Homo sapiens: one gene and its partners. The protein of the gene in region 2 purifies or fractionates together with the protein of the main gene of each other region. This does not show direct contact. Each region holds a gene or a part of one and is shown on either strand. Other genes may lie near its edges.

Region 1 (4,005 bases), on a different chromosome or scaffold from region 2:
TTTTTTTTTTTTTTTTTTTTTTTTTTTGAGACGGAGTCTTGCTCTTGTCGCCGTTTCTAGCTTTTTAAGAGTTACAATTAAGACCTCAATTTGAAGACTGGGCGCGGTGGCTCATACCTGTAATCCCAGCACTTTGGGAGGCCAGGGTGGGCCTGATCATTTGAGGTCAGGAGTTTTGAGACCAGCCTGGACAACATGGTGAAACACTCTACTAAAAATACAAAAAAATGAGCCAGGTGTGGTGGTGCGAAGCTGTAATCCCAGCTACTTGGGAGGCTGAGGCACGAGAATGGCTTGAACCCAGGAGGCGAAAGATGCAGTGAGCTGAGCTCGTGCCACTGCACTCCAGCCTGGGTGACAAGACAGAGACCCTGTCTCAAACAAAATAAAACCTTAAATTGGGCACTCAAGAAACAGCATCTTTAAATTTGTCACTGACTGATGGTTAATTTTACGAAATACACTACAGCTTATATATTAGTAACTACCTACACCAAGACTTTTTTCCCATTCTTCTTTTTAAATTTTATTAAGAAATATCATACATACAAAAGCACATAAACATACAGATTAAAAAAGGAAATGCCCACAGGCTTCAGAAACAGACCCTCACCAGTTCTTCTGAAGACCCCTGTGCCCTCATGATCACCTCTCCCTCCATCAAAACGGCTAACATTAAATTTTGTCTTAATCGTTTCCTTTTATCATGTATTTGACAGCCTGTTTTTGACTTTCATTGAAATGGAACCATAGTGATGTATTCTTCTGTGACTTGCTTTTTTTGATCCTTCTATTGTTGAGTTTTGTCCATGTTCACATACACAGCTGCAGTTCAGTTTCACTTCTGTGGAATTCCACTGTTGGAATATACCACAGTATTTATCCAACACACTGTTGGTGGACACTTGGGATCTTCCCGGGTTTTTTCTTCTTTTCTTCCTATTACACACAAATGCTTAAATCCATCCCCTGGTACGCATGTGTAAGAGTTTCTCTAGGGTATGTATCCGGGAATGAATGGCTACGAGAGAGGTTATGGCACACCCACTTATACCAAATTGTTTCCCGTTTCCCAAAGTTGTTGTTTCTAAACATTCTTAAATCTGTTGACAAATGACCTATTTGGGATGGCTGAGGGGAAGAAATAGATCAGCTACAAAACTCTTGAATTTTTAAAATAGTAAATTCAAAATTCTGATACAACAATGAAAAATACATTTACTTCTCTGCTTTGGCTTACTTGAAATGTACTTTTTAAAACTACAGGTTCAACTTAAAAGTGCTCTCCTTTATCTCAAAATAAATGTTTCTAAATATTACCAGGTAAAAACAGCAAGACTCAGAACATACGGGTATACCGTCATATATTTTGAAAGATCTATACATATATGTTTATATTTCCTCCCACCTCCCATCTCCCCACAAAGAAAACAACTTGGAAGAATAACTGTTAACAGCAGCAAGCTCCTGCAGAGGAAAAACAGAGAAATAGGAGTAGTAGGAGACATAGATCACTGAACACTTTTTTTTTTTAACCATGGGCAACATTACAATTATAATACAAAATTTCAAAAGTAGACCTGGGGTTCTTTCACAAACAACTAAAAAATCCCTCAGGAAATCAAACTTGAAAACCAATCCTGCATGAAGTCCCATCCCACAGAATTGTATACATAATAACTTCAAGTGTTTTTTGTTTCATGCACATATCAGATGTTTAAAAACATATTCACATAGCCCATCTGCAATGCATTTTTAAAAACAGAATGGATGAGGGCTCAGAGAACTTCCACCATAAAAATTTTCAGTTCTTACAAGTCTGAAAACTTTAATCAGAAGGTGGCTGAGCTCAACCAATATGTGGTCCAAGTGTTCTCAGACCTTAGAAATAAGGTTGGTTATTTATCCTCTGTGACACTAACTATATTTAAGGAACCAGAATGCCTAAGGAGAGGGAGTAAAAATATCTGAGCTGAGCAATATGACTAGGTTATTATAAGCTCAAGATCAAGAAAAGGATGTTTCAACCCAAACTGAAAAATGAATGGACTGTGTTTGAAGGGGAAAAAAAAACGTTTTAACAAAAAGGAGCATGATATGTATTATCTCTACATTCCAGAGGAGAGGATGTCTTGAGCAGCAGACTGGTCGGTCCTCTTGAAAGGCTCAATGAAAATTAAACTATTGGACCAGTGCTAATATAGTTTGATGACCAACAAAAGTTTACCCAATTTGTTTTATACTAATGAACTGTTATTTAAGAGGTCTTTGTCTTTTAGAGATACATGCTGAATTATTTACAGATTAAATGGTGTGTCTGAGACTTGCTCGAAAATAATAGAAAACAGTGGATACAAATACAATCACTCATGAAGTATAAAAGTGGTCATGAGTCTTGTTGGTGATGAGTTAACAGAGGTTAATTATATTGTTCCTCTTTTGTGTATGTCTTTAAATTTCCAAAATAAAGTTTTTTTTTTTTTAAGACCAACTGATTGCAGATTCCAAACTTACCAAGCAATCTGATTGATTAAAACTGGTTTGCTCCCCTTAAAGACCTTCCAAAGAGAAAATACATATTCACCAACTAATAACTTTTTGGTCTGCATGGCAGAAATGTTTGTTTCTTCTAGTGAACTGGTCTCAATACTGGATTCTTGTGAGCTGGTTAGCAACAATCAGTTCCTCTTCAGTCACATCAATTTTGGGTGTAAAATTCAACTTCTACGTCTCTCTCCATAACTAAAGCCAGGCCTTAGTCATAGATGTCCTGGGGAGGCAGGTCCTCCTCCCACCACCCCCACATCCCAGGTAACTTCAATAGTTACAATATATCTAAGTGTCCATAGAGGAAGCCTTTTCATATGAACTCATTTATTATACTTCATTTAAGTTAGTTAGACGTTGATTCTAGATGAGGCAGAGCAGAACAAATCTGGTATTTTAGTAACTTCCTAGATTTTTTATTACTTAGGGACAGAATATGGTTTAAAAACTATCACTTTAAGTCCTTTGCTGCTACAACCACAATGCTGTCAAACTACACAAAGCAGTGCCTGGGAGCTATCTTTGTGTTTGTTAGATTTTACTTCCCATTTTATCTTAATCCTCATGTGAATTATCTCTTACAAATTCAGAGATAACCCATTCATCTATTGCTGCATCTCCAGGATCAGCTAGGGAGCCAGGAGGGCTCTGTCTCCACAGCATTTTTTCATACAGAGCCTCTAAAGTGGGGGCGGCTTCATTATTTTTCAAAGTTTGGTGGAAGAGATTTTAGTAAATTCTTTAACAATTCATTATGCCTATTAGAATGAACACAGTGGCTTAACAGGCACTGGACCATGAGGCAGAGACCTAGCAACTCCATAAACATGAAGCCACAGGACCCTCCCTGGATAAGTCATTTAACACACTGTTTCTTTACCTATAAACTGATAGCAGTATTTGCAAGTTATAAACCACAAGGAATTGCTATGATATATATGTATGTGTGTATATACGTAGCTGGAGAGAATACTTTTATACAGTCGAAGAAGCTGGCTATAGATAGAAACATGCTGCCGGTTTTCCTAGATGTGACACAAAAATAATCACTTAAGTGGGGGGAAAAAACCCTTGCCATATATACTACACACCCTATACACAAATACATTTATAAACTGACACAGCTGGGTTAATCTTGATACAGGACTTAACAAAAACTAGCTCTTGAATGCTTTTCTACATCATCCCATAGCTAGCCAGCTAAAGAGTGCTTGTCAGGATACTTGGAATTTTCTACTAAATGAATCTCTCAGGGATGTAAAAATATATTCTAGTTCACTGCACATCTTTGCTATTAAAAGCAAAATTCAAATTTATTCATAACCACCTAAAATTGAAGCACCATTATTTAAAACATTAGAAAGTCTATAAAAATTAGTCTTAAACAGAACAAATCAGATAAAACTGTACACCAACACCTCTAGTAATAGTGTAACTCTTGTATTTAAAACAGGGGAC
Region 2 (5,392 bases):
CGGGAGGAGCGAAAGCTTGGGGGAAGGGCTTGGCTCAGGCTGGAGAGAGTTCGTGGGACCCCTGCATAGGACCTGGGTCTGAGGAGCAAGGGAGCTAGGGCTGCTCTACTGGGGCAGCGGCCCGCTTTGTGAGCAGCAAGGCGAAGGCTGCTGTAGGGGTCCCCTTACTTGAGCTGGGGGTGCGGAGGTCCCCCTGCAGCGGCGGTGGCGGGTGGCGGCACGTCCTGGCTGGGTTTCTGGGCCAGCTGTGGTTTGGGACGTCCAGCGGGGCCCGGGCCGCTGGGCCGAGGCTGCTGCGTGGTGGGTGGCCCAGTGCGGGGCACGGGACCCGCCTGGCTGGCCTGGCGTGTGGGGCCGGCTGGGCCTGGGGGTTTCTGGGGCGGGCCCTGGCGCTGCTGCCCGCCCGGTGGGGCCCCAGAGGCCTTTGGCGGAGCCGGGCCAGAGACGGATGTCTGACGGGTAGCCTGTGGGGGGCCCGCCTGGCGCTGGGGAGACGGAGAGGCGGGCGGGCGGGCTGCTGGAGGCGCCCCGGGGCCTCCCGCCACTGGCCGGGATTGGCGGCCTTGACCCTGGGTCGGCGGCGCGGCCTGGGACGCGGGCTGCTGGGGCGCTGAGGTGGGACTTGGAAGGCGCTGGGGCAGGGGGCTGCCAGCTGGGGGTCCAAGGCCTGAAAGGTGCTGCTGGCCCTGCGGGGGCGGGCGCTGCTGCAATGGGGGTCCCTGGCGCTGGGGGCCTGGACCCGGCTGTGGAGGGCCGCCTGGGGGACAGAGGGAGAGAAAGAGCACACGTGAGAGTGAGCGGGTAAGAGATGGCGGGCTGAGGGAGGGGACTGCGACCGCCAGCCTCTCGCTTACCCTGTGGTGGGGGTCGCTGCTGAGCCGGGGGCCCTGCGGGCTGCTGGGAGGTCTGGCGGCCCAAGGGCAGGGCCCCTGGGGACGGAGTCTGCGGCAGAGGAATGGAGCAGGAGAGGTTAAAAATAGTTACCAGCCAGTGGAGCATCAGCCAGTGATGACACAGGTTCCCTGTGCGCTGGGTGTTGCCCCACTTGTGGCTGAGCTGAGGGTACTCTGGGTTGTGGGGTGGGGGACCTGTTCCCAGGGGCGGGGCAGGGAGGTGCTCAGGGAAGTCAGGGCAGCAGCTGCTTATCAATGTTTTAAACAATTGGCAATCGCAGCCACATGTGTGCAAAGGTGATGCTGTGAGCCTACAGATTATCAGCTTCATGGCACAGCATGACCCAGGGCCGGCCTCCCCACACTAGCTCAAGCCACTAGCTCAGCGCCAGGGGCCTGACCTGGCCATGGGAGCCCCTGCCAGGGGAGGCATCCCGCTGTCGCTGCCGGGGCAGGGCCTGAGCCATCTTGTTGACCACGAGCTCTACGATGAGCTGTTTGTCTTCATCCTGGTGGTCACCAATGAGCGGCATGGAGGAACCCACCACCTGGGGGAAGGAAAGGATCCGTGAGGGGAGAGGCAGGCCTCGCACCTGAGGCGGCAGTAACACCGTGCTTTCAGTTGGCCAAGGGCATGGCCGCCGCTGAGCCCCAGTGTCTGAGGCACTGATTGTGCACGGTGAGGAAGGCTTGTCTGTTCCAAGGTACCTTACAGCTTAGAAGGTGCTTCAGAGCAGGGCTCAGCAAATTAGGGCCCATGGGCCCAACCTGGCCGACCACCTGGTTCTGTATGACCCAGAGCTAAGGATGGGTCTTTAAATTTTGTAACAGTTGAAAAAAATCGAAAGATTTTATAACATGCGAAAATGGCATGAAATTTAAATTTCAATGTCCATAAACAAAGTTTTATTGGAACACAGCCACACTTATTTTTTTAACATATCGTCTATGGCTGCTTTTGCAGAGTTGAGTAGTTACGGCAGAGGCTACGTGGCCTACAAAGCCTAAAATATGTACCGTCTGCTCCTTTACAGAAAATGTTTGCCGATCCCTGCTTCACGGTTTTCTAGGTGCTTTGTCCTTTCCAAAATGCTTTGCTGTCGGTCCAGTTCGCAGAATACTTTAAAGGTTACTAAGTGCCTCGCCATTCACCAAGATGTCTCGATTCGCAGAGCACTAAACAATCTAATAAGGGTTTTGCTAGTCACCAGGGACGTGCAAGTTCAGTCTAGTGTTCTGCCATTGCAAGGGATGGCCCCTTCGAAAGTTCGTCAGGCACCTTACAGTGTACTAAGCACATTGCTGTTGGCTGAGGACCTCTGTGCCATGGAGTGCTTCAGTTTGCACTGCTGCTGCCTGGCATCTGTTCCTCCCTCTACCCCACCTACCCCTGGGTGCTCATACCTCAATGATGTGATCCCTTCCGTCCTTGCCATGTAGCGCTTCCACTGCGCAGATGTCCAGTCCCCCAAAAATCTCTGAGCACGTGTCCACCCACAGCTTGTATCTGCCAAGACAAAGGGTGGGGAAGCCTGTCAGTCTCTCACCTGAGCTGTCGTGCTCCCACCCCCGCTTCCCCTCACACCCTGAGTTCGGGCTGCCCACCTGTCAGACATGGCAATTTGCTCCAGCATCGCAGAGCCAGTATTGGTCTTCCAGTTCCCTGACACTGACGTCCTCCTGGGGGACAAGGGGACAGAAGCTCAGGGGTGCCTCAGCTGCATGAGGCAAGGCAGGGGACCCCTTCCAGGGCTTTGGTCTCTCCACTCACATGTAGGCCTTGTAGTTCTGCCCAATCTTCTGGACACGCACGTCATATTTGGCATCGATGAAGGGCTCGGCAGTGGCATACGTCTTGGTCAGTGCCACGACACTTGCGATGTCCTGGAAGTCATGCTGGTTGTCAACCTTGACCTGTGGAAGTGCGGGCAAGGATCAGGGCCTGGTCAGGATAGGGCAGCTGTGGGGAGTGGGGGTGCCTGGGGGAGCATGTATACATGACACACAGGTGAGGCGAGTACACAAAAATTAGGTGGACATGCCAAGGCGCTCAAGCAGGCACGATCATGGGTCTCCTGTTTTGTATGTGAGCACACAGGCACAAAGTTGGGTGTGTAGAACACTGAGCATACCAAAATGTATTGGATTGTCTACTTTAAATGGGTGAGTTGTAGGGTGTGTGAACTATCTCTCACTAAAGCTGTGAAAAAACTGTGTATGTACAATATACTAATATAGGCATCCAGACACAAAATCAATTGTACACACAACATGCTAAGATACAGAAACTCGGACACAAATTACAAGTCTACTTTCTACGTACACAGAGACAAAATCAGATGGATGTAAAGCACACAGGACCCCAAGACTTTGGAACATAAAAGATCACACCACATCATGTGTGTTCGGCACAGGCATGCATGTACACACAGACACGATGCTGGAGACAAGCAAAATAACAGGACACACAAAATTGGCTGAATGCAGGAGGAAAAAGGGGTCGATGAGGTCAGCTGAATGTGAGAAAACAAAAATCTATTAGGTTGGTGCAAAAGTAATTGTGGTTTTTACCATAAGAACTGGCAAAACCCGCAATTACTTTTGCACCAACCTGATAGATAACGACACCCCAGGAGACGCGATCACACAGAATGACTGGTGTGCATTGCACAAATACACATCTACCTATGCACAGCCCAGCCAGAGACTCACCTTGCCCATCCCAGAGTGTGCGTGCCCCATCTTCACAACCACGGGGTACGTTGTACTGCTGAGCTGGTGGGGAAAAGGCAGAGGAGACATGCTCAGGGCAGAAAGGGTGACCTCCAGGGGTGGGGCGGCACTGAGGGGATCCCAGCCAGTGGGAACTGCATTATGAGTCACTTCCCAGGACACACAGGTCAGAGACAGGCAGGCAGCAGCTGGGGGTCACACAGTGTCTCCACCTCCGGGCCCAGAATTGAACCCAGAGCCCTGTCTGTCTGTCCCTCACTCCACCCCACCAACAAGTTCCAGACGTCCCGCCCCTGCTTTCCCGGGCAGAGGCATGGTATGAGCGTGGGGGACTGTTCCAGTAAAAAGAAAGTTTGTTTTTACAGTGGATGGATGATAGTGAGGCAAGTGTGTGCCAGTGCGTGTGTGTGGGGGTGGGGGGGGTGGGGAGTGGTGGTGAGCATGTAGTGACTGAACCCCTCAGCCAAACCTTGTATGTAAGCCTCACCTGCACACATAAACTATTGAGAGGCATGAGCCCTTGGAACTCAGATGTACATCGCCAAACCCAGAGATGCCAGTGACATTGAGACTGACAGCCAACACAGGCTCAAAGCACATGAGCTCTGGAGCAGCACAGACACCCACACAGTCATTCAGCCAGCCAGGTGCCCATAGCGTGGGTCAGCAGCCAGCACTCCAGGGCAGCACACACTGGACACCCTTAGGCACACAATCAATACTTGGGCACACACCCAGGTTCCCTCCCCTCACCCAAACCCACATCACCATCAGGGGAACACACACAACACAAAAGATTACCCGTCCAATCAAGAGACACACAACTCCACAGGCACACTCCACAGAACCGGGCACATACTCAACACACAGGCACACATAAAACACCCCTAGGCAAATGCACAGCAAATAAGGCCCTACACAACACACAGAGGTGTATGCACTTCTAGGTATTCACATCACCACTGGGACCCGTAAGAGACCCACGCCACATTCCTGGGCATACAAAAAGTATATCTAGACACACACACAACATGCCTTGCCACATATACAATACAGAGAGGCTACACACAACCAGAGACACCCACAACTCAGTTTGCAGAAAACATTCCTGGGCACTCCCACCCCAACACACATACAGTCACACATTCAGGCGAGAGGGATACCTCAAGTCTCCCCCGCTCCTGGATGGGGTAGAGGAAACCAGGTTGGACGGCCCTAGGCTCCCCGCTCCCTCCACCCCCACCCCCACAGCACAGCTGCACAGTGCCCCTCTGGTGGCCCTCCCTCTCGCTGACAAGGTAGAGAGATGGCATTCCCGGAGGGGCTGCTGGGGCGGTGGTGGTTCCCAGTTCCCGACAGGCACAGGAAGCCCGCAGACTCAGGGTGACCGATTGACCTTAAGGCCTCCCTCTGCACACCCCCCCTTCCTCATTTCCCAAATGACTGGCGTCATTATGAGGTGGGCTGAGAGGCACGATGTTGGGACGGGGGTTTGGGGCATCTCTGGGCAGCGGGCCAGGGAAACGATGCCGAGGCGGATGCATACAGTACCACCCAGGTGTGCGCACAGCACACAGAAGTGCATAATGCACTCAGTTACATATGCAACCCAGATCCGCTTTGCCGAGGCTGGTAGACAACTCCCAGAAGTAACACACAAAACACACAGGCACATGCTCGACTCTTAGCAATGGACACACAACACACCAGAGAGCTGTGCGTACACACCCATACCTCCCCCAACAACCCTGAGGTTTCTAGGTGCC
Region 3 (4,446 bases), on a different chromosome or scaffold from region 2:
TCAGTCATCATCAGAGGTTGCCAAAAGGGCTTGTGTGAGGGTGAGCTGCTATCACTCCAAAGAGGGTGGGTCCTTGGTCCTGAAAGGTGACCAGTCCATTTCTTGGCTACTCTCTTGAAATCCCACATGGTACAAATGACAGGTACAAGGACTGGGTCTATTCCGGAGAGAGCCCTCCTTCCTCCTTCCTTCTCAAATATTTATTGAGCACCTGTAATATGCCAGGCAGTGTTAGGCACTAGGGATACAGTGATGGACAAGATAGGCAAATTCCCTGCCTTTACAGAATTCAGTCTAATTGGGGAGATGCAAGCAAAAGAGGGAATTAGATGATTCAGGATGATGATAATTACACTAGGGGACATGTCTGGTATCATGGGTGCCCATGGGTTTGCAACAGGCCTTTCTGAGGAAGCCATGTCCCCAGGCCATCGAAGGGAAGGGGGCAAAGGGCCCGATGGGGTAGGTATCTGATAGAATGAAAAATTCTCTGTGAGTAGCACATTTGAAGAAGGCATGGGCTCTTGTCTTGTAGCGGAGATGGTCAACTGTGCACTTTAACCTCACTGTTGCATGGTAGAGCATGATCTCTGGGAAATGGCTGTGCAGCCAGGAATTACATTTCTAATTCCCATTGCAAGGAAGTGGTGCTCTGTGGCTAGAGACAGTCCATGAGTGGTAGTAGAACAAAGTGTGTCCCTGTCAGTCTAAGGCAGTTCAGAAGCAGGTATTCTCCTCCCTCTGTTTCTCCTTCTGCCAGAAATACAGTCTTAAAGGATGGTTAAGCCATGAGACCATGAGACAGAAGGAACTTGGGCCCTCCATATCCCTGCATGGAGAAAAATGACTCCTGGCCAGTAACACCTGAACTCTTACGTGAGCAAACAATATATTTCTATTATGCTATGGAAAATGTGAGGGTTGTTTTGTTATAGCAGCCTGTGTTACACTAACTAGTAAATGTCTGAAGAAACTTAAAATGAAACAGAAACATTGCATATGAGCATGATTTCCTAACCAAAAAACATATTTTTGTTTGTCTTTCTATTGAAAACCGAAGCTGGGAGAGGAAATTAGATTTGGGGCCTTGGGGCACTACCATGTTTATTATTATTATTATTTGCATGAGAATGAGAATCACTTTTCGGAAAAATAAAAATGAAAATTCTGTATGAAAAAAAAAATCAGGAACATACTCATTGGGAGGCAAGGGAACAAAAGTTCCCAGAGGCAGGTCCTAGATCTGATCCTGGGGGAGGAGGCTCTGCCATCTCACCCTCCAGGTCCACGATTCTATTGCTTTCTCAACAAGGATGGAATTTTAGTACATATTAATATCACTTTCCAAATTTATTGCTCTTGTGAAAAAGGAGAAATCATACTCTTTAGGGTTCTTAGAAGGAATCCTAAAGTGAAACTTCTTTGGAGATAACAGGTTTCACCGTTCTCTACCCAGTGATTGCCGGGCAAAGCAACAAATATGGAATCTGAGTAAAAAAAGAAATAACAAAACTTCAGGGTTGCCTTATTCTACCACTGGCATTAAACAAATAATGGAGTAAGTTTATGTGAGGTTAGCTTTATGGGCAGTCATTTTATAACTGACAGAGCATCTTACGATGAGCCTGCTAATTTTCGAATGCGTGTTCTGGCCACTAGAACATGTGCTCGTGAGATGATGTAGAGATGTGAACACTGTGTTTTATTTAAATACATGAGACTTTATTTCCATGTCTCCATTTTACAAATTAGGATCTAGAAAACAGACACTGGAAGGAATTTACACCAAGTCACTCCAGAATCTTAAGATGCACAAAAATGAAATTTTAGTATTCCCAAGTGACCGGGGATCTACCCTCCAGAATAAAGCAGTGGACCCGTGGGGAAGTTGAGTAGACTATGGACCATAGTTCAGTGGAGTGGGTGGATAAAGGCATTGATGTCAGAAAGACCCAGCTGGACCGCTGGCTCTGGCGCTCAGAAGCTGGGTGAGTCTGGGTAAGTTCATCACCATCTCTGAGCTTTAGTTTTCTCAACAGGACAAACAATGCCAATCTCATGGGGTTGTTGAGGGGAATAAATTACAGAAAAGTTCTGGCCAACATTTTTTGTAAAAAAGGATGTGGAGCTTAATATTCAGAAAGCCTCACTAATTCAGGACAGCCCTACACCCTTGGCTAAGAGTGGAACAAACCCGGTATTTGTTAATCAGCTTTCCTCTACTAACGGCTAGGCACAAGACATGTTGCTGTGGTGCTGAGCACCCATGGAAGCTTGAAACCAGGGAAACCAGCAGAGTGCCTGAGCCTCCAGTCTCCAAGCAGCACCTCTCACAGGAGTACCACGAGGAGACAAACAAGAGTGCCTTCTGGCCCCACGCTCCATCTTTATATTTTGCTGCTGGGTTCCTGGGGGGGAAATGTGTATCTTCGGCCTAAGCAAGCCATTGACCTTTCCTTTTCACAGGCCAGTTTATTAGAAGGCAGGGGTCCATGTGCTTTCAGACTTGTAGTGCTATTGCTCTGTCCCACTCCTTCAGGTCTATTTGCTGATGAATGTTTCTGTGCATGCTCTCTCTCTTCTCTCTCTCTCTCTCGCTCTCCCTCTCTCTCACACATACTCAAGTTTCCTGTGTTTCCTTGGCAATCTCCTCTCAAAGTTGTTATTCTCAGCATGTGAAGAACAGCTGTAGGGCGCCCTGGCTCCAAGCTGACAGCAGCCTATCCAGGCCTGGCTGATGGGCAGCTGGTGCGATGGCGGAGAAGCCATGTGGCAGATACCCTTGGTTTCATCACTTTCACGGTTCCCCCAGGAACTCCCACACCTTTGTCCTGCTCTAAAACATGGAGATACGTCTGTGATTTGGGAGGAGGGCTGATGAATCTGGTGGATCTCAAACACACAGCATTTCAAAGCTGAAAAAGCAATTCCCCCTCTCCTAATAAGAACGGCTGGAGAGTGGGCGCTGAGCGTACCTCCAGATCTTCTGTTGGGATGTTTACTGCTAGTGTTTAATAAATTGTTCCTATAAACCCCAAACTCATGCATGTTAGCATTCTAAAAGACAGCAGCTGAAGAGGCATAAGGATGTTTATTAATAGTAATTTCAGTAGCTGAAAGGACGTTAGTAGTGAAGTGGCATTTATGATCAAGGCAGCCTGCAATACATCCCTCATATTAGCACAATAAACTGCCATCTTGTGTGTTGCAGAGCAGGTAGAAAGAGGAAACTAGGAAGCAGAAGAAATTAGGAAGAAAAGCCACTCAAAACTATTCCCCGAGGCTCTGATTGTAAGACAAACTCCCAGTCTATTAAGAGCCTAACAGTATCTAATTAATTATCTCAAATCACCAGTGCTTATTAGCAAAGGGTCTGACCCCTAGTAAGGGTTCAATTCATGTTAACTGACATGGATGAACTGTTCTGACACTCCCATGTAGCATTCAGTGTTCCCAAATCAGCACTTTACAAGGTGTGGTCCAGGACAGAGCTTCTGAAACTTCCCCCAGAGTCAGAATATGCAGAAACCTTGTTAAAATGGATTGCTGGGCCCTACCCTCAGGGATTCTAATTCAGTTGGTCTGAAATGGGGTCACTGATTCTGCATTTCTTTCTTTCTTTTTTTTTTTTGAGACAGAGTTTCACTCTGTCACCTTGGCTGGAGTGCAGTGGTGCCATCTCAGCTCACTGCAACCTCTGCCTCCTGGTTCAAGTAATTCTGCTGCCTCAGCCTCCCAAGCAGCTGGGATTACAGGTGCATGCCACCACGCCCAGCTAATTTTTTGTATTTTTAGTAGAGATAGGGTTTCACCATGTTGGCCAGGCTGGTCTCGAACTCCTCACCTCAAGAGATCCACCTGCCTTGGCCTCCCAAAGTGCTGGTATTACAGGCGTGAGCCATCGTGGCCAGCTGATTCTGCATTTCCAGCCAGCCTTCAGGTGATGCTGAAGCTGCTGGTTCACAGAGCACACGTTGAGTAGCTCTGGTCTGTAGGACCTTCTCTCTTGGAATGTTCATGAGCATCACCAGGTGGGGTGGTGGGAGTCCTGTAGTTTTTTCTTCTTGCTGTTTTTGAGATAGAGTTTCGCTCTTGTTGCCCAGGCTGGAGTGCAATGGCATGATCTCGGCTCACCACAACCTCTGCCTCCCAGATTTCAAGCAATTCTCCTCCCTCGGCCTCCCAAGTAGCTGGGATTACAGGCATGCACCACCACGCCAGGCTAATTTTGTATTTTTAGTAGAGACGGGGTTTCTCCATGTTGGTCAGGCTGGTTTCGAACTCCTGACCTCAGGTGATCCGCCCGCCTCGGCCTCCCAAAGTGCTGGGATGACAGGCGTAAGCCACCGTGCCGGGCTGGAGTCCTATAGTTATATAGAGTGGGAAACAAGGGGCAGGCTACATTAACCAGGGGCTTTCGGGAAGTTAGGGCCCACGGGCCAAATC
Region 4 (4,446 bases), on a different chromosome or scaffold from region 2:
TTCCTGGACTCAAGTGAACCTACCACCTCAGCCTCCCAAAGTGTTGGGTTTATAGACATGAACCGCAGCACCTGGCCTTTTTTTCTTTTTAAATAAAAGAGGTTTATTTGGTTCACGGTTCTGCAGACTGTTGTTCTGCAACTTTAACAAGCTGATTCTAGATACATTCTGTGTTACGTATTTTACCAAATGTATATCTACTACTACATTTTGAGAGTTTGAACAAAACTTGCAAGTCGTTACCTCGAGGTAAATGAGAAGCTCCAATGTGAAGAGGGGGCCCAGGAGCATTGCTGCGGATGATAGACATTTGCACATTTGTAGTCATGATGTGATGCAGGTTACTGGGATGGCCCTGAAAGAAAGAGGATAGAACGTTATTTTTACATGTTTGCTCTTAGCCATTGCCTCTAGGAAGTCACCTGCCTCCAAATGTGGGTCAGGTTGTTTTTTAGATAGTGAGTATCCCAAGAGAAAGGGCTAAGGACATTCAGCTTGAGCTACTTTTACATGCCATACCGTACAATGAACTGTGCTAACAGGCATGTGAGAAGTATGAGGACCCCACAACTGCTGCAGGCCCACATAATTACAGATAATATACTTCGATATCTACGTTTAGAAACTCTCATCTGCGATATTACCTTTCACACTTGTTTTCCCTGTTCTGGCCAAATGCTTATTTTTTTTCCCATTCTCACTATTTCCTTTACATACCACTGCATCCATCCATTCTTTAAGCTTTTTTGTTTCTAAGTAAATGTCAGTTGGTATCCAACAGGTGCTCCCTACCAGTTCTTCAGCTCAACCCTGAAATGTCCCTTACATTCTCCCAAACCACAGAGTTCAGGGCTTCTCAGCTAAGGGTTCTGGTACTTCTGAGAGTACTCAGCAGTATGACAAAAGGAAAAAACACAGTACACCTCTTTGGGATATAAATTTTTCTTGAAAATGTGAAGGGAAAGTTTTTAGATTTAGTTTTTTTCCCCAGGTAAAAAATGTAAAATATTTAATTAATCAGGTACACAGCAGAGTAGGATTGCAAAATTTCACAAAAAAACCTTAAAACAGAAGACTTCAGAATAAATGTTCGCAACTAAGGCTGGGTGCGGTGGCTCATGCCTGTAATCCCAGCACTTTGGGAGGCCGAGGCGGGCAGATCATTTGAGGTCAGGAGTTGGAGACCAGCCTGGCCAACATGGTGAAACCCCGTCTCTATTAAAATAAAAAAATTAGCTGGGGGTGGTGGTGCCCGCTTGTAATCCTAGCTACTCGGGAGGCTGAGGCAAGAGAATGGCTCGAACACGGGACGTGGACGTTGCTGTGAGCCAAGACTGCACCACTACACTCCAGCTTGGGTGACACCGTGAGATTCTGTCTCAAAAAAAAAAAAAAAAAAGTTTGGAACTAGAGAGCTGCTTGAGGTAACCTATCCCAAGAGATGCACATCTGCTCTCCTCAGAGAAACCACAGAGCAGCACTGCCTACCCCCGGAAGGCAGTTCTTGACGCTAAAACCAAACACGAACCGGACTCCGGACTCCTCAAGGACACGGACTGTTTTATCTAGATTTATATATCACACTAGGGTCGAATCGAGCATCTAGTAGCTGCTCAATAAATTCTAGCTAAATGACCACTATGGACACTGGCTTCTACTCCCTTTACAGTTATCCTTCTCTCTCAAACCTACTATCTTCACTTGCAGGTATCAGTGACTGTTTGATCTTTTTTTATTACCGTGACTAATGTACTGCTAGCATTCAATAAATCATGATCAACAGTTTGGCATTTCAGTTTGAAAATCAGCAAATTAAAAGGAAGAAAAACCTGTTGTCCACTGATTGTTGCCACAGGAATGGCTGAAGCTTGAGGGATGCTACTCTCCATGGTAACGGTAACCTGCCCTGGAACCTTGGGGGGAAGTGACAGGGTAGAAGGTGGAGCAGGAGCAATGGGACGGCTAGGCATGGTGGGCTTCGGGGGCGGCTGCAAACAGAAAACCACACAAAACATATCAATGGCCTCATACTGGTGATGCATTTCAATCCACAATTAAGAGTGCACAAATCGAACCTGGAAAGTGCCAGGAAAGATGCCGTAAGCTTTATACATTTTATCTATTATCATCACAGTGTTTCCACTGAAGTACTAGCATTTCTATTTCACAGATAAAGAAACATACAAAGCAAGGCTAACTGACTTGCTCAAAGCCACACACACAGTAAGAAGTAGAACTGGGAATAAAGCCCAGAGCTGTATGGCTCACAGCCCACACCCTTTCTTCTACATGATGCTGCCTCCCAAGTTTGGGTGGATTGAACAAAACTCCCAGTAACTGAAACACAACCCCAAGGTAATACACAGGCAATATTCTCAGAAACCCCCAAATTAACCAGTTATTAAAACAAACCTTAAAGAAGAGTGCCACTCCACTTGGTCCCATGGTACTGGGTTATCTGAACTTATAACATTACTGTCAGCTGGGCACAGTGGCTCACGCCTGTAATCCCAGCAATCTGGGAAGCTAAGGCGGGCAGACCACTTGAGGCCAGGAGTTTGAGACCAGCCTGGCCGACATGGTGAAACGCCATCTCTACTAAAAATACAAAAATTAGCCAGGCGTAGTGACGTGCGCCTGTAATACCAGCTACTTGGGAGGCTGAGGCTGCAGAACCGCTTGAACCTTGGAGGTGGAAGTTGCAGTGAGCCAAGATCGCACCACTGCACTCCAGCCTGGATGACAGAGAAAGACTCCGTCTCAAATAAAAACAGAAACAAAACATTAATGTCATTAAGCCCCCACTGCTAAATCTGACTGGCTTAAAAAAAAAAGAGGGTCCCTTCAAGATTGTATCTAACTTAACATGCCCATAAGTTGAATAATATCAGTATCAAAATGGATAACAGCAAAGATCCTATGATGCCAACTGCCCAGCAGCACAAGACAAGGCACTGCAGAAAATCAGGGCTGAGTTACAGAAAGGAGCTGAACTCATATGTCATAAAGAAAAAATGAAATGTGATCCTAAGATACAGCCTAAGATTTTATACAAATTGTTACAAACATTAGCCAGTCTCGAGCTCTGGTTCAGTGTGAAGTTTTAACCCTCTCCATTACCTTCATAAGTCCCTCCGAAAATGAAAGTGGCACTGCTGGCGTCAGGTGTGCTGGCGGGGCTGTCACTGCAACAGGTGTGGCTGATGCGACAGCATGGTGTGTCGACAACATCTGCACCTGTGGATAGGGCCTTACCACAACAGGCTCTTGCTTCTCCTCCCGGGACTGGAGGGAGCTGCTGGAACTCATGTGCTCCCTGGCACTGACTTCAGAATCTCGACCAGATTCATCATTGACTAGTAAAGACATTAAGAGTGAGACAGTATGTCACAGTCTCCCAGTGTAAGATAGCAGCACAGACAAGAGTGGTACCTGAAGTTAAATCTCAGGATTGACAAAGTGGCCATTTCCTTGTGATGTTTTCTTAACAAGGTCAATATGGGCACTGGATTCTCCTGATGGACATCAGACAAAAGAGCCACAACTGTGGAATATAGAATTTATTCTGGATATTGTAGCCTTATGAACAAACTACCTGAAAATCATCTAAAATGAGCTGAAATAGTTAAAAGTACAATACAGGATGTAAGACAATTTCATTTAAAACATCCTCTTAGAAAGTTATAAAAGCCTGACATTAAAAAGATATTTTATGCTGGCCAACATGGCAAAACCCTATCTCTACTAAAAATACAAAAAAAAAAAAAAAAAACAAACCAAAAACCAAAAACCACGTTTTTTTGTAATCCCAGCTACTTGGGAGGCTAAGGTGGGAGGATCACCTGAGCCCAAAAGGCAGAGGTTGCAGTGAGCCAAGATTCCGTCACTGCACTCTAGCCTGGGCGAGAGAGGAAGATTGTCTCCAAAAAAAAAAAAAAAAAAAAAAAGGATGGCTGGTGCAGTGGCTTGCACCTGCAATCCTAGCATTTTGAGAGGCCAAGGCAAACAGATCCCTTGAACCCAGGAGTTCAAGACCAGCCTTGGCAACACAGTAAGACTCCATCTCTGCAAAAAATTTTAAAATTAAATGGGCATGGTGGCATGCACCCGTAATCCCAGCTATATTGGAGGCAGAGGGAGGAGGATCACTTAACCCTGGGAGGTCAAGGCTGCAGTGAGCCAAGCCATGATTGTGCCACTGCACTCCAGCTTGGATGACACAGTGAGACTTTGTCTCAAAAAAAAAAAAAAAAGGTGGTTGGGGGCTGAGCACAGCCTGTAATCCTAGCACTTTGGGAAACCAAGGCAGGTGGATCATTTGAAGTCAGGAGTTCCAGGCCAGCCTGACCAACGTGGTGAAACCCCGTCTCTACTAAAAATACAAAAAAATTAGCCGGGCGTGGTGGTACACACCTATAATCTCAGCTACTAGGGAAGATGAGGCAG

The links. Proteins that work in one complex are often made in the same cells at the same time.
Region 1: the proteins of SYN1 (region 2) and LUC7L3 purify together in Homo sapiens (affinity purification with mass spectrometry, with the first as the bait; one large-scale study listed by BioGRID). This does not show direct contact.
Region 3: the proteins of SYN1 (region 2) and SNAP25 purify together in Homo sapiens (co-immunoprecipitation; one study listed by IntAct). This does not show direct contact.
Region 4: the proteins of SYN1 (region 2) and SAP130 purify together in Homo sapiens (affinity purification with mass spectrometry, with the first as the bait; one large-scale study listed by BioGRID). This does not show direct contact.

Annotation. Positions count from the first base shown.
Region 1 is NC_000017.11:50,752,715-50,756,719, reverse strand, and holds the end of LUC7L3 (luc7-like protein 3), read right to left. Parts: 3' UTR 501-4,005; downstream 1-500. UniProt on the Homo sapiens protein: Binds cAMP regulatory element DNA sequence. May play a role in RNA splicing.
Region 2 is NC_000023.11:47,573,834-47,579,225, forward strand, and holds part of SYN1 (synapsin-1), read right to left. Parts: intron 3,669-5,392; coding exon 3,606-3,668; intron 2,808-3,605; coding exon 2,665-2,807; intron 2,574-2,664; coding exon 2,499-2,573; intron 2,401-2,498; coding exon 2,298-2,400; intron 1,442-2,297; coding exon 1,295-1,441; intron 943-1,294; coding exon 855-942; intron 758-854; coding exon 169-757; intron 1-168. UniProt on the Homo sapiens protein: Neuronal phosphoprotein that coats synaptic vesicles, and binds to the cytoskeleton. Acts as a regulator of synaptic vesicles trafficking, involved in the control of neurotransmitter release at the pre-synaptic terminal.
Region 3 is NC_000020.11:10,269,884-10,274,329, reverse strand, and holds part of SNAP25 (synaptosomal-associated protein 25), read right to left. Parts: intron 1-4,446.
Region 4 is NC_000002.12:128,014,560-128,019,005, forward strand, and holds part of SAP130 (histone deacetylase complex subunit SAP130), read right to left. Parts: intron 3,357-4,446; coding exon 3,121-3,356; intron 1,989-3,120; coding exon 1,830-1,988; intron 356-1,829; coding exon 244-355; intron 1-243. UniProt on the Homo sapiens protein: Acts as a transcriptional repressor. May function in the assembly and/or enzymatic activity of the mSin3A corepressor complex or in mediating interactions between the complex and other regulatory complexes.